2 linked regions of the Homo sapiens genome follow. The protein of the gene in region 2 purifies or fractionates together with the protein of the main gene of each other region. This does not show direct contact. Each region holds a gene or a part of one and is shown on either strand. Other genes may lie near its edges.

Region 1 (8,336 bases), on a different chromosome or scaffold from region 2:
GGAAAGGTTGGGTTGAAGCGTGTTGTCAAGTGAATTCCTCTTGGAGGTTTAAGTTTCAGAGACAGCTTCAGGGAAGGAGCACAGAATGCATTTGTGGATAAGGTACCTCCCCTTCCTGGTAGGAAATGAACGTCAGCTGTGTGGGTCTGGCTGGAGGACAGAGCCCACTGCTAGGTCAGTCTTCTGGCTGTGTACCCTGTGTGCTCTTGCAGAAGGAAAAGGCCCTGTGTTGGTGGGAAGAGGAGGACATGGTTGTGTTGTGTGGCTTCGTGAGTGGAATCAGCCAGGGGACGCAGCCTTAGCTTAACAAGCATTTCAGTGCGTTCTTCGTAGTTGATTTCAGAAGCTCACAGCCTTGAAACTTGTCCAGCTGAGTGCTTGCTTGTGCCCTGCTCCTTGCTAGGAAGACTTGAGTTAGCTGGCCTTTTAAAAATACTTCAAAAACTTCTAAAGGTTTGGGAAACAAACGTTCATGTGAAGGAGCCATATGGGCTGATAGCGAGGCTTGCCCCAAGCCTGGCCAGTCTCTGATTGCCCTGCAAGGCCTTTTTTATGTTCATCCCAGAGGCTGAAGCCCAGCTAGGGTGGACCTTGTGGTGACTTCAGAGCTAGATGGGACCAGATCAGTCATCCAGCAAACTGCCACATGTTGCAGATAAGGAAACGGGATGGGAGAAGAAGAGAGATCTTCTTTCTGCTGCCTGTTTTCCAGCCCACCCTCAGGAGGAGGAAGTGGACTTTTCTGTCCGTAATTCAGTTTCAGTCAACATGCCTTTGTCAAGTTCCTACTGTATGCCAGGTGTTAGGCCTGTAACTGTGAACGGGCCACAGACTCTGCCTCCAGGGGCTTGGGGTCGGCTGGGGAAGCAGATGGGCAGTGCAGGGGAATGGGTACAGGGTGCTAGAAGAGGGGAGCCTTCCATTAGGCCTCTTTGTAGAGGCAGGTGGGTATGAGGCTGAAGGACCCGTAGGGATTTGCCCGTGCGAGAGAGAAAACAGCTAATCCAAATGCCCAGAACGTGCTGTTTTGCATGGCTCGGGGATGAGGTGGCGGGAGCGAAGGCCAGAGGCCAGATCAGGAGTTGTATTCTGAAGGTTGTAGGGAGCCCTTGAGGATTTGACTAAGAAGATCATTATTGGTTCTGTTTCAAGACATTCATGGCAACAGTGAAAAATGGACGAGAAAACGCATGGTAGAGACAGGAGAACCATGAAGACATTGAACTGTTACACATGAGAAATAATGAGAACTGCAAGATGGGCTCCAGGCAGCAGGGAGGTGTGAGGAGGAGACAGGGCAGATGCCCTGATCTGTTGGCTCTGGAATCTGTAGGGTTTGTTGTTGTTGTTGTTGGTTTTTTTAATGTACAGTTCAAGGTTGGGTGCAGTGGCTCAGGCCTGTAATCCCAGCACTTTCTGGAGGCCGAGTCAGGCGGATCACTTGAGGCCAGGAGTTCGAGACCACCCTGGCCAACAGGGTGAAACCCTGTCTCTACTGAAAAAAAAAAAAAAAAGCTGGGCATGGTGGCATACACCCATAGTCCCAGCTACTCGGGAGGCTGAAGCAGGAGAATCGCTTGAACCTGGGAGATGGAGCTTACAGTGAGCCAAGATCATGCTGTGCACTCCAGCCTGGGCGACAGAGTGAGACTCCATCTGGGGAAAAAAAAAAAGTACAGTTCAGTAGTATATTCACACTGTTGTGTAACAGGTCTTTAAAACTTTTTCATCCTAAACTAAAACTCTGTACCCATTAAACAATTCCTCATTTCTACTTCCCCAGTCCCTAGCAGCCTCCATTCTACTCTCTGTTTCTCTGGGGTTGACTAGTCTAGGGATCTCATATAAATGGAATCATACAGTATTTATCTTTGTGACTGGCTTGTTTCCCTTAGCATAATGTCTTCAGAGTTCATCCCTGCTGTGGTGTATACAGGATTTCCTTTTGTTCGAAGGCCGAATGACATTCTGGAATCTTTGGTTCTTTTAGCAGGCTGGGTATGGTTAAGTGACAGGGAGGGAAACACACTTGGCTGGACTGCGTGCCGCTGCTGCTGTGACTGTGGGCCTGGGTGTAGGGATAAGCAGCGAGGAGGCGAGCACCCTGGATGAGGTTCGCGTTTACCTACCTCCCGGGGTTAAGTGTGGCAGGGAACCAGGCCTCCTGCTTCTCTGTTCCTTGGGAAAGACAGCTTTTGCATCTTCAGATCTCTGGAGACACAAGTGGGTAGGGTTGGGGAAGATTCTCTCTCAGGGCTTCAGGGCTACAGGGTTGCCCCAGAGAGCCTCTGCCATTCCACCAGTCTCTGTGGCTTCTGTTGGAGGTTTTGTGGACATTCAGAATCATTTAAAATGTTACACGGACTCTGAGGAGCTCATCTGGGAAAGACTATCTCAAAGAGATAACAGAAAAGTCATTTGTGTGTAATATAATTTAGTTGTAGAGTAGAACTCAGATAGAATGATTCCAGAGCTTTGCATAGAGTGGGCAGGCAAAAATAACTGTCAAGTTGACTTTTTGGAGGTTTCAGGTGAGATTTTCAAACATTCAAGCATTTATTCCTTCTTGGTGTCAGTGGAGCCCTGTGACACTCACACAGGTAGGTGGGCAAGAAGCATGGAGCGCACCCTAATTAAATGCCTACTCTGTGCAGGCCCTCCTGTGATCTTTGCTAAGTGAATAGTCATTATGAAATCAAACAGATGAAGTCAGATATCTTGGGGAAAGTCACAGTCAAGTCTGTCTTTAAACTCAGAACATTTCTATTCTACACGGGTACTTCTTAATCTTAGTCACTTGTGTCTGGGTTAAGCCCTTAAATAACTTATACCAGTTTCCCTAGCATTCCTTCCTGCAACCTAGAGATTCCTAATTATGATAATATCCCTGATGGAATGCAGTGGTTCCCACATCTGGCTTGTCCCCAGCAAAGAATTGAGGATTCAGCACTCTGTGAAGGAAAAGCATGGTGTGCAGTTAGAGCAGATCCACAGTGACCTGACTTCATCAGAAGGGACACATGTCTGAGGAGGTGACATTTAAGGAGAGACCTGCAGATTAGACCCAAACTTGGCCAGCAGGCAGCATAGTAAGAAGAGCCCCACAGACCGTAAGTGTGCTCAAGCAAGTCCTGCCGCTTCAGCCTCTGAGGCCAGACCTGGTTCTGCAGGACTTAGGAAGCCTAACTGCAGTGCACTGCAGGGAGCCCGCAGAATGGGCGAAGTGCAGTCAGACCCGGACTGGGAAGCATTAAGGTTATTTCTAGTTTATTGGAGTTGAATAATCAACATGTTCTTTTTTTAGAAAAATAACCTTTTTACTTTTGAATAATTTAGATTTATAGAAACATTGCCAAGATAGTAAGTCTCCATATATCCTTCACTTAGCTTCCCCAAGTATGAATACAGCCATGGTACATTTGTCAAAACTAAGAAATTAACATTAATCCCTCTTTGTGCATGTAGCTTTGAATCTCTGTGTAGTATTTCTTTTGGAACAGTTGTTAGAAATGGGAGGTTTGAGGCCAGGCGCGGTGGCTCACGCCTGTAATCCCAGCACTTTGGGAGGCCAAGGCGGGCGGTTCACGAGGTCGGGATATTGAGACCATCCTGGCTAACACAGTGAAACCTGTCTCTACTAAAAATACAAAAAATTAGCCAGGCGTGATGGCGGGTGCCAGTAATCCCAGCTACTCAGGAGGCTGAGGCAGGAGAATGGCGTGAACCCGGGAGGCGGAGCTTGCAGTGAGCGGAGATCGTGCCACTGCACTCCAGCCTGGGCGACAGAGCGAGACTCCATCTCAAAAAAATAATAATAAAAAGAAATGGGAGGTTTGAGAATGTGGGATCATTGTTAGAGTGCCCTCCAGGTGGCTGTGCCCTGTCCGCTCCTGCCCTCATTGGTGAGAGTGTCTTTCTCCCACAGCTCCAGTCTCTTTTGCTAATGTGTTTTTGATAAATACCTTGTGGTACATGAAACGACTGAAGTGTTTTCCAAATAGAATTTCTCCCCTCTTTTTAGCACCCAACTGGTCAGCTAACTTTGATGTCCCAATGGAAACAACCCACGGTGCTCCATTGGATTCTGTGGGATCTGATGTCTGGAGCACAGAGGAGCCGATGCCAACTAAAGAGACGGGCTGGGCTTCTTTTTCAGAGTTCACGTCTTCCCTGAGGTGAGCGAACATGTGCTGTCTCTACACCCTTCCACGGGGGACCTGGGAATGGTCAGGTGTTTGCTGTTAACGTGTGTTCTTCACCTTGACTGACTTCCAAGTTGAATATACTGCCCTGAAAAAGATTAAACATCAGCATACTAACACAGCTCTGTGTTGTAAGAAGAACAATCACCATCTTCCTTTCCTTTCCTCCTGGATTAATTGGAAATGGGAGTAGTTCTTGAACAAAGTAGCTTGTGAGGATGCGGTCCCAGGGAGTTAGCAGGACGCAGCAGAAGATGCATCTCCGTGAGCTTTTCTGGCTTCATAGAGCTGTCAGGACAGAATTGAGGAGAAGAGGAATGAGGTGAAGCCAAGAAATCCTGACAGGCACAGCACCTCTGTGTGGGGTGTGGCAGGCAAACAAAATGGATCTTGAATTCAGTAGATAATATGAACTTACAGTTCACTTGCAGCTAGTCCAGTGCTGTCAATTAAGGGCTCCCAATCATTGGTAACTCGGAAGATAGGAAGACAAGCTGTTTTGGGCTGACAGTTAGTGTCTTAGACAAACCAAAGAATAGGCTGAAACCCATGTTGCTTTGTAGTAACCATAGTAATAGCATTAAGTTACTACTCAGAGGTACAAGTGAGATTTGTGAAAAATGTCTCCAAAATAATGAGTTATTTCGTCTACCCCGCTTTTCAGTACAGGACATACATTTCCGCCTACTCCTTTTTTTGGTCTGTTTATAACCCGAGGATAAGAGCCTTTGGTTACTTGAGGGTGTGATTGAAGCAGCTTGCTTCTCTTTACCCTCTGTGTGCACGTCTCTGAGTTTGTGGGAATGAGGGATAAAAGAGGAAGTGTAATGATCTCCCTCACCCCTACCCCTTACTGCTCAGGCATTTGGTGTTTTTTTACTATGTTTCCACAGTTCCAACAACAAATATCATTAAGAGGGCCAGTCTCTCCCAGGCAGTGTGGCTGAAAATAAGTAAAGGTTTTTGTAAAACCAGTCAACCTGATAAATACCGTTGCCATTGCACAATGTACGTCTTTGCTGTTCAAGCTCTGGGAGCCTCCTAGTGACTATGGTGGGATGAGAAGTTGGGACATGATGAGCCTGTCTAGAATGCTTTACAAAGTCCCTGTCTTACTGCCTTGCTGGCTTAACAGAACATTTGCCTGCCCGCACTCATGTCCTTCTTCAAACAGCTACTGGCACTTAGATCCATGTGTCACTGGAGTTTGTAACCCAGTGACTCTTACACAGATGCTAATGTCTCCTAACAAAAACTTACTTGTAAAGGCTTATTGTGAATCTTGGGGTAACTGAGGACCATTCCCTGCTGCTAATATCTGAATTTTCTCTTTTTTGAAAGCACAAAAGATTCTTTAAGGAGTAATTCTCCAGTGGAAATGGAAACCAGCACTGAACCCATGGACCCTCTGACTCCCAGTGCGGCTGCCCTGGCAGTGCAGCCAGAAGGTGCGTGCAGAGAGGCCTGGGTACACGCCAGGGTCACGTGGCTGCTTTGTCAAACCAGACCTGATTCTCAGGCTCAGGGGCTAGTGGAGCCCGGGAGTGAGATGGTGGGTCTGATGTCCACAGGGCAGCTGATGAAAGAAATTGTGCCTGTCCTTCTAGAACCACAGCATGCTGACTCTGGAAAGAGTAAGGGCTCTAAGTTACCAGGCATGCAGTGTGCAGATTAGGAAACTGAGGTCTAGAGGGAAGAAGGCCTAAGCCCATAGTACCCAGGGTGAATAAAACTGGAATTAGACGTGTGCAGCCAAGCCTGTGTGTAGTTGTCCCTTGGAGTTTGCTTTGCTCAAGCATGTAGGTGTATCTGGGTTTGTTTAGAGCTATGGGGCTGGTTATTTTCACTTCGCCATTGTAAGCAGATTGAATAGTCCTGGGAATCTCTAAAGTTCCAGTGGGTTTTCCTATTACTCTACCTAGTCAAATGTGTTCCTTGCACGGCCCTGAACTGTTTTCACCTTGATGGACGGGGCTTTGGGAGGAGGGGGATGCTAGCAAAGGGAGTGTGATGGGAACCAAAAGGATGTGGAGGGCACGAATCATGAGGTGGGCTTAAGGAGTGAGTTCTTAGAAAATGAAATGAGGTTTTGGTAGAGGGTGTGAGAACCCTCCTTCCCAGGGGCAAGGGAAAGGAATAAAACCAATAACTAATGCTGGTTTCATCATCCTCCTGAACATTTGATACAGATTCCCGCATTTGACTCCTCAGTGGTTCTGTAAGTGGGTGCACTGATCCCCTTTCCTGGATGAGGAAACTCAGGTTATAGATGAGGTTCCTTGTCCAAGTAGTCTACAGCTAGGAAGTGGTGATGTCGATGTTTGAATCCAGGAAGCCTCACCTCAGCCAGGCTCATCACCTATGTTGGCTTCCCATTAGAGAACAAAGAAACGATCCACCAGCAACACCACAAGAAAGTAATTTTTAAAACAAAGCAAAGCAAATAGAGCCCAACTGAGGAAAACAAGTGAGTAGAGGGTAGAGTGTGTAACTGCCTGCTCTGCCCCACACTGGAACAGTTAGGAGCACAAGTGTCTGCTGGGAGAAGCTGGGTATGGAGGTGGACGCTGAGCTGGGAGGGATGTAGGCGACTTGCTAGTCTCTAGTAAAGAAAACCCATGAAACCCCTCTTTAGTGGGCATCTTTAAGAAGTCTCTCCCCATCAAGAATGTGGCCCAGACAACAGCAGGCAGAAGCCATCTCACTCTTTTTTTTCTTCAAGCAGTAGATGTCACGTTGGGTAGATGGGTTTGTACAGTGGTGGGGTGCCAGTTCCTTTTCGGGCTTGCTGTGTGTGACCATCAGCTGTGTTCTTTTCAGCGGCAGGCAGTGTGGCCATGGAAGCCAGCTCTGACGGAGAGGAGGATGCAGAAAGTACAGACAAGGTAACTGAGACAGTGATGAATGGCGGCATGAAGGAAACGCTCAGCCTCACTGTAGATGCCAAGACAGAGACTGCGGTCTTCAAAAGGTAACCAGGGGTGAGATCCTGCTGGTAGCTTCAGGTTATTGGGAGGATGGTGGGGCAGAAACCTCAAACATTAAAATTTTTAATTTGATTCAAATGAATGTTCAGATACTAGCTTGATGTCTTTCTGTTGTCTCCATTAAACACAATAAATCTTAATGAAGAGATGGAGAGTTTAGGCCCCTAAGTGCCTTTTCCCCCATAAATGTGTTCAGAAGACTGTATTTTACATCTAGCAGTTTGATAGAACTATGAGAATTGATAAATCTTTAATCACAATAGAAATTGGCTTGTGTAACAGGCTACAGAGCATGGCCCATGAAAACCGGTTTCAGGTCGACTGGTTTTACAAAAACCTTTACTTATTTTCAGTAACATACAGATGATTATCTCAGGACATAATGCAGTCATGAAAATTCAGTAGCAAAATGATAGCTTTAAAAGAACGTGACCCTTAGAAATTCACTTCTAAACTCAAAAAAGGAATTGTAATGGATATTAAAAACCTAAAACTGAGAGAATAATGGGAAAAATGTCTGTCAAAACTTAAGGACTGAAGCTAAGCCTGTGCTTAGAGCTTTAGTCTTAGAGACCATTCCAGCCATTACAAGAAGGAATGCCTCCCTGCTTATTGCGAGGTCACTACAAAACAAGGAGTGAAAGAAGAAAACTGACTGTAGACTGATTTCATACATGAGCAATTATTCTCAAAACTTAAGTTAAAAGCTAGCAAACCAAATGTAGCAATGTATTTTAAAGTCATGACCAAGGATATGTGCTCCAGTGACACAATGTAAACACCAGTGTGTACATGGTAAAAATTATTCAGAGTAATTCCCAGACAAAAGGAGAAAAGCATTTGATTACAAATTAAAGCTGTTCATGATTTTCTTTGCAGCCTAGGAATAGAAAGTAAATAGGTGAAACTGGTAAGTATCTCTAGAAAATCTAGAGTAGACTTGATTCTTCAGTGAGGCATTAGAAGTATTCCCTTTAAAGACAAGAACCAGAAAGTGGGACCTACAGTTGCTATTTGTCTTCAGCACTGTGCTGGTGGCCTTAGCAAATGCAGCATTCCAAATAAATAAATAGTCGCTGTTGATAGGCTATGATTTATACATAAAAATTCCAATGGAATCTGTAGATAAGGATTAATAGAAAAGTTT
Region 2 (8,336 bases):
AGGGTCCTCGCTTAAAATAGGCCTTTTCACAAAAGTGCTTATTACTTGAAGCAAGTGCTTTAGGGCTGCGGTGGGGAGAGGGGGGAGGGGGAGGGCAAAGGGAAGGCGCTGTTCCCTCCCCGCCCTCCCCCATGAAGACTGGGGGGCATTCTGCCTGTTTTACTTCTCCACACCCGTTTAAGTCAAAGAGGTTTAAAAAAAATCTTAACATTAAAATAAATATGCAGTGGCCATGAGAATGGTCAAAATGCTTCAAAAAACACTAGGGCTGGGGAGCCCAGGGTGGGGCGTGGGGTTTCCTTTGGCATAAGGAGAGGAGGCTGCTTGTCCCCCAGGCTTCCTCACAGCCACATATGGAGGGACAGAGGACTCCCCACCACCTCCCAGCACTGCTGACAGTGCGCTGAGGGCAGCAGGGCGCAGACAGCCCCCAGAAATCTCATCTAGCAAGACAACGGGGCTCTGACACTCAGACGCTTCCCGCCATCACCAAACATCACGAAAGGAGAACACGACTCACACCCGGCAAGTTCTCTCTGGAGGACCCATCTTCTCACTCCCCTTGCCCCCCACCACCTAATTCCCAGCACCAAGATGAGAGGGAGGGGGTGGAATGGGAAGATTTCAGGAGAGAGAATTGAAGGGAAGGCAAGCTTTGCAGAGCCAGCAGGGTTGGGGATGGGGGCTGCAGCCCTTAAGAGAGGTCACATTGATTGTCATATAGGGGAGGACACGGTGTGGAGGGAGGTGGGCAAGAGGGGCGTCACAAGGCCCTTTGGCTTTGAAAATAAAAATAAAAACTAAAAGCTGCACAATCCTTCTCATCAATAATGGTCATTTGGAAGCCTTGAAATGATTTAGGAACTGAGGGTTGGGAGAAGCAAAACACAGAGAGACAGGGGATCAAAAGGGACCATGAAAAGATAAGGACTTGGACAACACCCCAGGCTTCTGGAAACCAGCATGAGGTATGGTTAAAGGTATCCGTTGGGGAGGGAGGGGGTCCCTGGGACGCCCCCCTCCCCTCAGCCCACCCTTGACAAGGGTGGCAAGACATTCAGGGTATACAACTAAAAGATGGGTAAGACTGTGAATAAAGCAAACTTGAGTAGGGGAGGGAGGCTGAAGGATCCCCCCTCAGGGGAGACCCTGTACTGTGTAAACGAAGCCTGTCCAGTTCTCAGGGGACAATACTGATGGCAGCCAAACTGGGCAAGGATGCAGTGTGGGGGCGGAGGGGGCATGACCTCTATTCAAGTTCTGTGTCTTGGCCCCTGGCTGAGGTATTGAGTGTGAGGAAGGGAACACTGGGCTGCAGGAGTGGGTCCAACTGTCCAGGAGGCTGCACTAGGAGATGGGTGGACAGAGCACTTAAAGGGACCAGGGCCAAATTCAATGCTACATTTAGAGAGAAAACTGCCCCCTCTTCACTCCAGCCCAGTTTGGCTTTTGGGGTGCGACTTTAGAAATCTTATCAGTGCAGCCCCCAGCTCAATCCCATCTTTCCTCCCTGCTGGGAAGGCAGGGACCAAGCCCCAGTACCTATTCATCTCTCTCTAGGTCAGAGCTTCTTCCTCACACTGGAGGGGAAGCCTGGGTCCCGAGTAGCCACGGTCCCTTGTCGGCCCTGCCCCTCCTACCATCTTTGGCTTCAGATCAGGAGTGACTGGGGCAGTGGGTACTCTTGGACATAACGGAAGGTGGAGGCAGATAGGGAGCACAGATAAACTATGGGCTTGGCGGCACAGGAGGAAGAACATGGTCCCTCCCTCCATATACATGCAAACACATGCCTGAAACACAGTGGACATACTAGGGCTGTGGTTTTGAAATGGGCAGGAAATTAATTTGTTTCTTCCCCTAAAGGATAAAACGCTTACTTAAAAATTCATGACAAGCCTCAAAGTTCAAGGGAAGGAGAGCCAGGGCAGGAATGACCACAGGCTCTGCCCTCCCAAAAGAAGATAAAAGAAAGAAGCAAGGTTAAAGTGCGTGGTTAGGGGCCAGGCTAGGAGTGGGAGGGAATGGGGAGGGGGCAGGCTGTGGGGGCAGAACCAGCCCTTGATTTGCATATGAGGAGCCAGGGGAGAGTGCAGGATTGGGGCCCAGGTACAGTAGTTGCTGCTTCAAGTGTTTTGCATTTGAACTTTAGGGGTGATAGGGTACAGAAGTGGGGAAAAAGCTCCAGGCCCCAGTGCTAAATATCCTCCCCCCTCATCCTCTAGCTGCCCCTGAAGGGGGGAGGGGGACACCCCCAGAGTGCTCACACAGTACCAGAAATTAAGGCTTCTCACTGCTGCGGGGATGGAGGGACCGGCCGAGCAGGGAGGCAGTGATGGGTATGGAAGAAGAGGGGATCTGCCTGGCAGTAGGGGCAGGGGAGAAGGGGGACACAGAGAGGAGTCCCCAGGGAAGAGTCGGGGGAGCTGGCAGCAGAAAGAGGGAACCAAGAGATGGAGTCAAAGAGTGGGGGAGCCAGGCATTTAGCAATCATTTTGGGACACTTGGCAGAAGGGGTCGCCCTGGGGGTACCAAGGGCCTGGGGTGCTCCCTGTCAGTCCCAGACCCCTGCCAGGCCAAGATGGTGTGGCAAAGGGGTGAGCAGCTGCTCCCCAGGGCTTCCTTCCCCTCCGCCCCCTCCACCCAGTCGTGTTCTCCTTTAAAGTGCCCTAAATGTTTAGACTTTTTCTAAATAAATAGAATTAGATATCAAGCCACCGGCGGGGGAGGGACACTGGAGGGGGCTACTCAGAGTAGCAGCCATCTAACCCAATGGCGCCGGGCCGCTCCTGGCTGTAGGGGCAGGAGGCCCCATGGGGCAGGGCGCCGCAGCCACCCACCGTCTTGGCGGCTGCAATGCTGCAGTTCTTGAGCAGGCTGAAGCTGAAAGGACTGACGGCGTCCTTGGGTGGGAAAGGCTTCATGGTGGAAAGGATCAAGGCCAGGCAGTCTGCCACATCTTTGTTGGGGGCACAGGCCAGTGCTGGGGTGTGACCTGCAGGGCCAAGGGGGAGAACTGAGGCATAGAGTCCTGTATCCTAGCCAGCCTCCCCCAAGCCCTGAAGTCTCTTCTCTGTGGAGGGAGCCAAGGCAGGCAGGTACCCAGCAGCGGCAGAATCCAAGGGTGACGAGGGCCCAGGAAGGCTGACAGGCAGATTCTCTAAGTACGGGTTAAAGGGCGGGCATGGGAGTCAAAGCCTAGGGTGTGGAGTCCTCCTGACCCTGCAGGCTCCCCTCTGAGACTCCAGAGTACTGGTGTGGGCTCCCTGCTCTGAAGAGTTCCCTTGGGAAGAAAATCCCATGTATAGCAAGATTAAGAAGTCACCTCCTGAAGAATGTCCCTGACCCCAAACCCAAGAGAGGCATGGGGCCCCAGACCCCACCCACCTTCTTCATCCACAGCCAGCACTGTGGCCCCATGACTCAGCAGGGCCTGTACCACAGAAGCTAGACCATTCCGGGCAGCAATGTGGAGTGGCCTTGGAAAAAAGGAAAAAGAAGGAGCTTGATGCTAAGCTGCCCTTCCACCTCCAGACAGGGTGGCAAGGGTGCTGAACAAATACAATGGGCTCCAGAGAGCCTCTGAACAGCGGCCACTCTTTCATCACCCACTGGCCTCCCCCAGCCAGGAGCCCCCTTCCCCAGGCACTCACATCTGCAGCGCACTGTTGGTAGCATTGATAAGGCCAAGGTCTTGGGTTTCTGCCAGGATCATGAGGGCACATTTCTCATGGCCCTGAGGGAGGGGAACAGAGAGTGGAGACTTGTGAAGTAGAAATGTGGCAGGGTGCAGGGCAGGAGTTGGGGAGAGTAACAGGAGGACAAACAGCTGCCCAACCAGTCGGATAGGCTGGACAATCCTCACTTCTGCCCCAGTCCCCTCTGCAACCGAGACTTACCTCTCTTCATCAAGCTCTGCCCCTTATGCAGTCCCCCAATCACTTCAGGTAAGTACCTTGCTACAAGCCAAGTGGAGGGCCGTGTTCTTGTTCTCATCCAACACAGTAAGGTCTGCCTTCCCTCGATACAGCAGAAATTCTACGAGAGAAATGTGATAGAGGGACTGACCCCTCCCTCCAGAGCAGTAGCCATCCTGGCTCTCCACTTTGCATCCCGTCTGCAGATGGCGAGACATCCAAAGACAACCCTCTTGCTTTCTGAACCCCAGCCCCAGCCAGCCTCCACAGGCAGGGCTGACCCATCCTGCAAATGCCCCAGGGGAGCTCCTCCCTTCCACAAGTGGCCCCTACACACCCACAGCAGCGGTCTGCCCGTTCTCAGCCGCCGTCATGAGCGCAGTGCGGCCAGTGTGGTCAGTGGCGTTCACCTCAGCTTGATGCTGCAGCAGCATCCGGAGCCCAGAGACATTGTCCGCGAAGGCAGCGGCGTGAAGGGGGGTCCTGTAAGGCAGGGATCAGGGTAGATTAAAATAGGGAAGAGTATACTGCCCAAGCAGAAAGGGGAAGCCAGAGGCAACTGGGATTCTTCCCAAGTCTTCCATCACTCACCGTCCTTTGGCATCTCGGCTGTTCACAATCTTGGCACCCAGAGCTCCCAGTAGCATCTCTGTGGTGCTGTCTTGGTTATTAATCCTAGAGGAAGAGGGAGGAGGGGTCATCAGGAAGGACAAGGGAAGTAGACTACCTGTCCTAAGCTCAAGTCATGGGCCCTCGCGAGAAGGGCTGATGCAGCAGAAGGGACTTACACTGCACAGTGCAAAGGAGTGAAGGGGTTTCCTTCCAGGTACGAAAACGGGCTGTGTTCAAGTAACAACTCCAGACAATCTTCATGTCCTGGGCACGAGGAAGGAAGAGTAGTGATGGAGAAAAACGGCAAGGTTCCCTGTCTGTCCTGTGTCTTGACACTCCATTCCACTTCCAGATTCAGATCAACCCAGGTCCCCCCCAACAACCCACCTGTCCCCCTCTACACACACTCCAACACATGCTCCTGTGCCTGTGGAGGCCCCAGTCTAGTACCAGTGTAGGAGGCCCAGTGCATGGGCGAGTATCCGCTGTAATCCACCCCGGCATCCAGGGGATCTGTGGAAAGGGCAGCCTGCAGCAGGGTCCGCAGTACTGCAGTGTGGCCACAGGCTGAGGCCAGGTGAATGGGCGTGCGGCCCTTAAAGTCTCGGCACAGCACAAATGCGTCGTGGTCCAGCAGGGCAGCCAGGCAGTCCTCACAGCCAGTCACTGCCTGTGAGTAACATGGGGGTGTGAGGGGGATGAAAAGCTCCTCCTTTTCCACTGGCCTGTTGCTGGAGTCTGGCTCAGGAGTAAGAACCACTTCCAGGGCTCCAATCCTTGTCTTTTTTTTTTTTTTTTTTTTTTTGGAGTCGGAGTCTTGCTCTGTCGCCCAGGCTGGAGTGCAGTGGCATAATCTCGGCTCACTGCAACCTCTGCCTCCCCGGTTCAAGCGATTCTCCTGCCTCAGCCTCCCAAGTAGCTGGGATTACAGGCAGGTGCCACCATGCCCGGCCAATTTTTTTGTATTTTTAGTAGAGACAGGGTTTCACCACGTTAGCCAGGATGGTCTTGATCTCCTCACCTCGTGATCCGCCTGCCTCGGCCTCCCAAAGTGCTGGGATTACAGGCATGAGCCACTGGCCTCAATCCTTGTCTTTACAACAATAATTCTTTCTTTTTTTGAGACGGAGTCTCACTCTGTCACCCAGGCTGGAGTGCAATGGTGCGATCTTGGCTCACTGCAACCTCTGCCTCCCAGGTTCCAGCAATTCTCCTGTCTCAGCCTCCCAAGTAGCTGGGATTATAGGCATGCACCACCATGCCCAATTAATTTTTGTATTTTTAGTAGAGGCGAAGTTTCACCATGTTGGCCAGGCTGGTCTCAAACTCCTGACTTCAGGTGATCTGCCCGCCTTGGCCTTCCAAAGTGCTGGGATTACAGACGTGAGCCACCATGCCCGGCCCTTTACAACAACAATTCTAAGTATTAGGGACCCACATCTCCCTCCTTGACTCTCTCTATGCCAGCAGACAATCAGGATACTAAGAGTTAATACTGGAGCTCTGGAGTTAATACTGGAAAGACTAAATGGAGAGAAGGAGACTAAGGGATCAAAAAATCTTATGGGAGGAGGAGGCAGCTTAGGACAGGTGGTCACGGAAGAGGATCTAGGTTGTGGCGACATTATGCGATGGGTTGGGGCCAGCAGGGTATCCCAGGTAGAGTCTGGGTGGTGAGCACTCAGTTGTACGTGATTACAAAGCACAGATATTGGCCAGGCACAGTGGCTCACGCCTGTAATCCCAACCCTTTGGGAGGCCAAGGCGGGTGGATCTCATCATCAGGAGATTGAGACTACCCTGGCTAACACGGTGAAACCCTGTCTCTACTAAAAATACAAAAATTAGCCAGGCGTGGTGGCAGGCGCCTGTAATCCCAGCTACTCGGGAGGCTGAGGCAGGAGAATTGCTTGAACCCAGGAGGCGGAGGTTGCAGTGAGCCGAGATCACGCCACTGCACTCCAGCCTGGGTGACAGAGCGAGACTCTATCTCAATAATAATAATAATAATAATAATAATAATAATAATAATAATAATAATAATAATAAACAAAGCACAGATATCAGGGAAATCAGCTGGGGACGTCAGGAACTCATCCTGGAGCAAGCACAAAGCTCAATAAAATCCTGGGCACAGCGTGGGTCTGGTGGCTCATGCCTGTAATCCCAGCACTTCGGGAGGCCAAGGTGGGGGGATCACTTGAACCCAGGAGTTCAAGACCAGCTTGGGCAAGATGGTAAGACCCCCATATCTACAAAAAATACAAAAATTAGCTGGGCATGATGGCATGTGCCTACAGTTTCAGCTACTTAGGAGGCTGAGGTGCGAGAATCACCTGAGCCCAGGAAGTCAAGGCTGCAGTGAGCTGTGATAGTGTCACTGCACTCCAACCTGGGCAATGGGAGTGAGACCCTGTCTCAAAAAAAAAAAAAAAAAAGAAAAAGAAAAAAGACGGCACAAAATCCTGGCTTGCCTCCTAGACAATTGGATTCCCTACTGCTGGTGAGTCCCATGCTCCCACACTGAGGCCCATGTGCAAACAATCCCCCCTAGAAGCTCACTCACCCCGCGGTGGAGGGCAGTGCGGCCCCGGAGGTCAGCAGCATCAGCTGTGGATCCTTTCTCTAGCAGCAGATGTACACAGTCCACATGGCCATTCATGATGGCCAGCATCAGTGGGGTCCTACAGAAGGGCAGGAGGAGGAGTGAGGATCCCGCAAGGACTGGAAAACCTGCACCCCACCCTGGCCCACACTCACTGTCCATAGGCATCCATGACATCTGTGATGTCAGCTCGTTCCCCACTGTCGATCAGCAAGTGCAGGGAGTCAGTGTGGCCAGAGGCAGCTAGGGGAAAGGGACCCCGTGTCAGGGCAGGGCCAGGAGGAAGAAGGGAGGCAAGGTCAAGCCTAAAGGACTTGGGGTCAATGTTACAGAAAGACCTGGGCCAGGGAGAAATCTCTGAGGATAGGAAGCTATGAATCAGGGCTTGAAGTCTCCATTCTCCTCACCCTACTCCACTTTCCAGCCCCATTCCCATCCAGGAGGGATCTGGCATGGCAAGGGTAGGGCAGCAGCCTAAAGTGGGCACTAACCAGCAGCGTGCAGGGGTGTCCACTTGCGCTTGCGCTCCTTGATGAGGGCAGAGGCGCCGTGGGCTGTAAGCACCTCCACACACTCAGTAGAGCCGCGCTCCGTGGCCAGGAAGAGTGCGGTCCGGCCCTTGTGGTCCCTTACGTCCAGATTCACCAGCGTCTCCGCCAGCGTCTTCAAGGCTTCACAGTGACCGTTGTAGGCCTGGCAAGGTGCAGGCAACCAGTGCACACAGCTCGGGACCTTCCCTGCTCCTCCCTTCCCCTTCTCTGCTCTTGGGGTCCCTGGGAAGCTCAAGGTCTTAGTCCTTGACAAGCTCCTTGGGCCCCTTAAGGCTTCCTACCCTGCACTGTGCTTATCCCCTCTCCCACAAAAAGGCAGAAGGAAGGATAACTTCACAAGTGCTGGCACCTTTGTTAGGGCCTGGGAACAGGTAGGACAAGGAAGGCAACAGAAAAAAGACGTGGGACTCACAGCTAAGTGCAAAGGGCTGACTGGAATGGTGCTCTCCACATCCTCCAGGCAGTTAAAGGACATTTCTAAGAGCTGCAAAGGACAGGAAAGTAGGTGCTGAGACTCTGGAACTCCCAAGATAGTACCCCAGTCCCCGACTCGCAGTAATCCCCACTAAGCCTCTGGATCCAAAGACCACATTTGATTGAACCCTTAGTTTTGGAATCCACAAACCCTGTGCCCTGCCCCTGCCTCCCCTC

The links.
Region 1: the proteins of ANKRD52 (region 2) and PPP6R3 purify together in Homo sapiens (affinity purification with mass spectrometry; 2 studies listed by BioGRID and IntAct, with this or other methods). This does not show direct contact.

Annotation. Positions count from the first base shown.
Region 1 is NC_000011.10:68,596,320-68,604,655, forward strand, and holds part of PPP6R3 (serine/threonine-protein phosphatase 6 regulatory subunit 3), read left to right. Parts: intron 1-4,021; coding exon 4,022-4,175; intron 4,176-5,543; coding exon 5,544-5,650; intron 5,651-7,022; coding exon 7,023-7,173; intron 7,174-8,336.
Region 2 is NC_000012.12:56,240,398-56,248,733, forward strand, and holds part of ANKRD52 (serine/threonine-protein phosphatase 6 regulatory ankyrin repeat subunit C), read right to left. Parts: intron 8,170-8,336; coding exon 8,098-8,169; intron 7,828-8,097; coding exon 7,626-7,827; intron 7,378-7,625; coding exon 7,290-7,377; intron 7,214-7,289; coding exon 7,096-7,213; intron 5,200-7,095; coding exon 4,980-5,199; intron 4,794-4,979; coding exon 4,706-4,793; intron 4,593-4,705; coding exon 4,509-4,592; intron 4,401-4,508; coding exon 4,255-4,400; intron 4,039-4,254; coding exon 3,956-4,038; intron 3,737-3,955; coding exon 3,654-3,736; intron 3,480-3,653; coding exon 3,388-3,479; intron 2,996-3,387; coding exon 2,745-2,995; 3' UTR 1-2,744. UniProt on the Homo sapiens protein: Putative regulatory subunit of protein phosphatase 6 (PP6) that may be involved in the recognition of phosphoprotein substrates.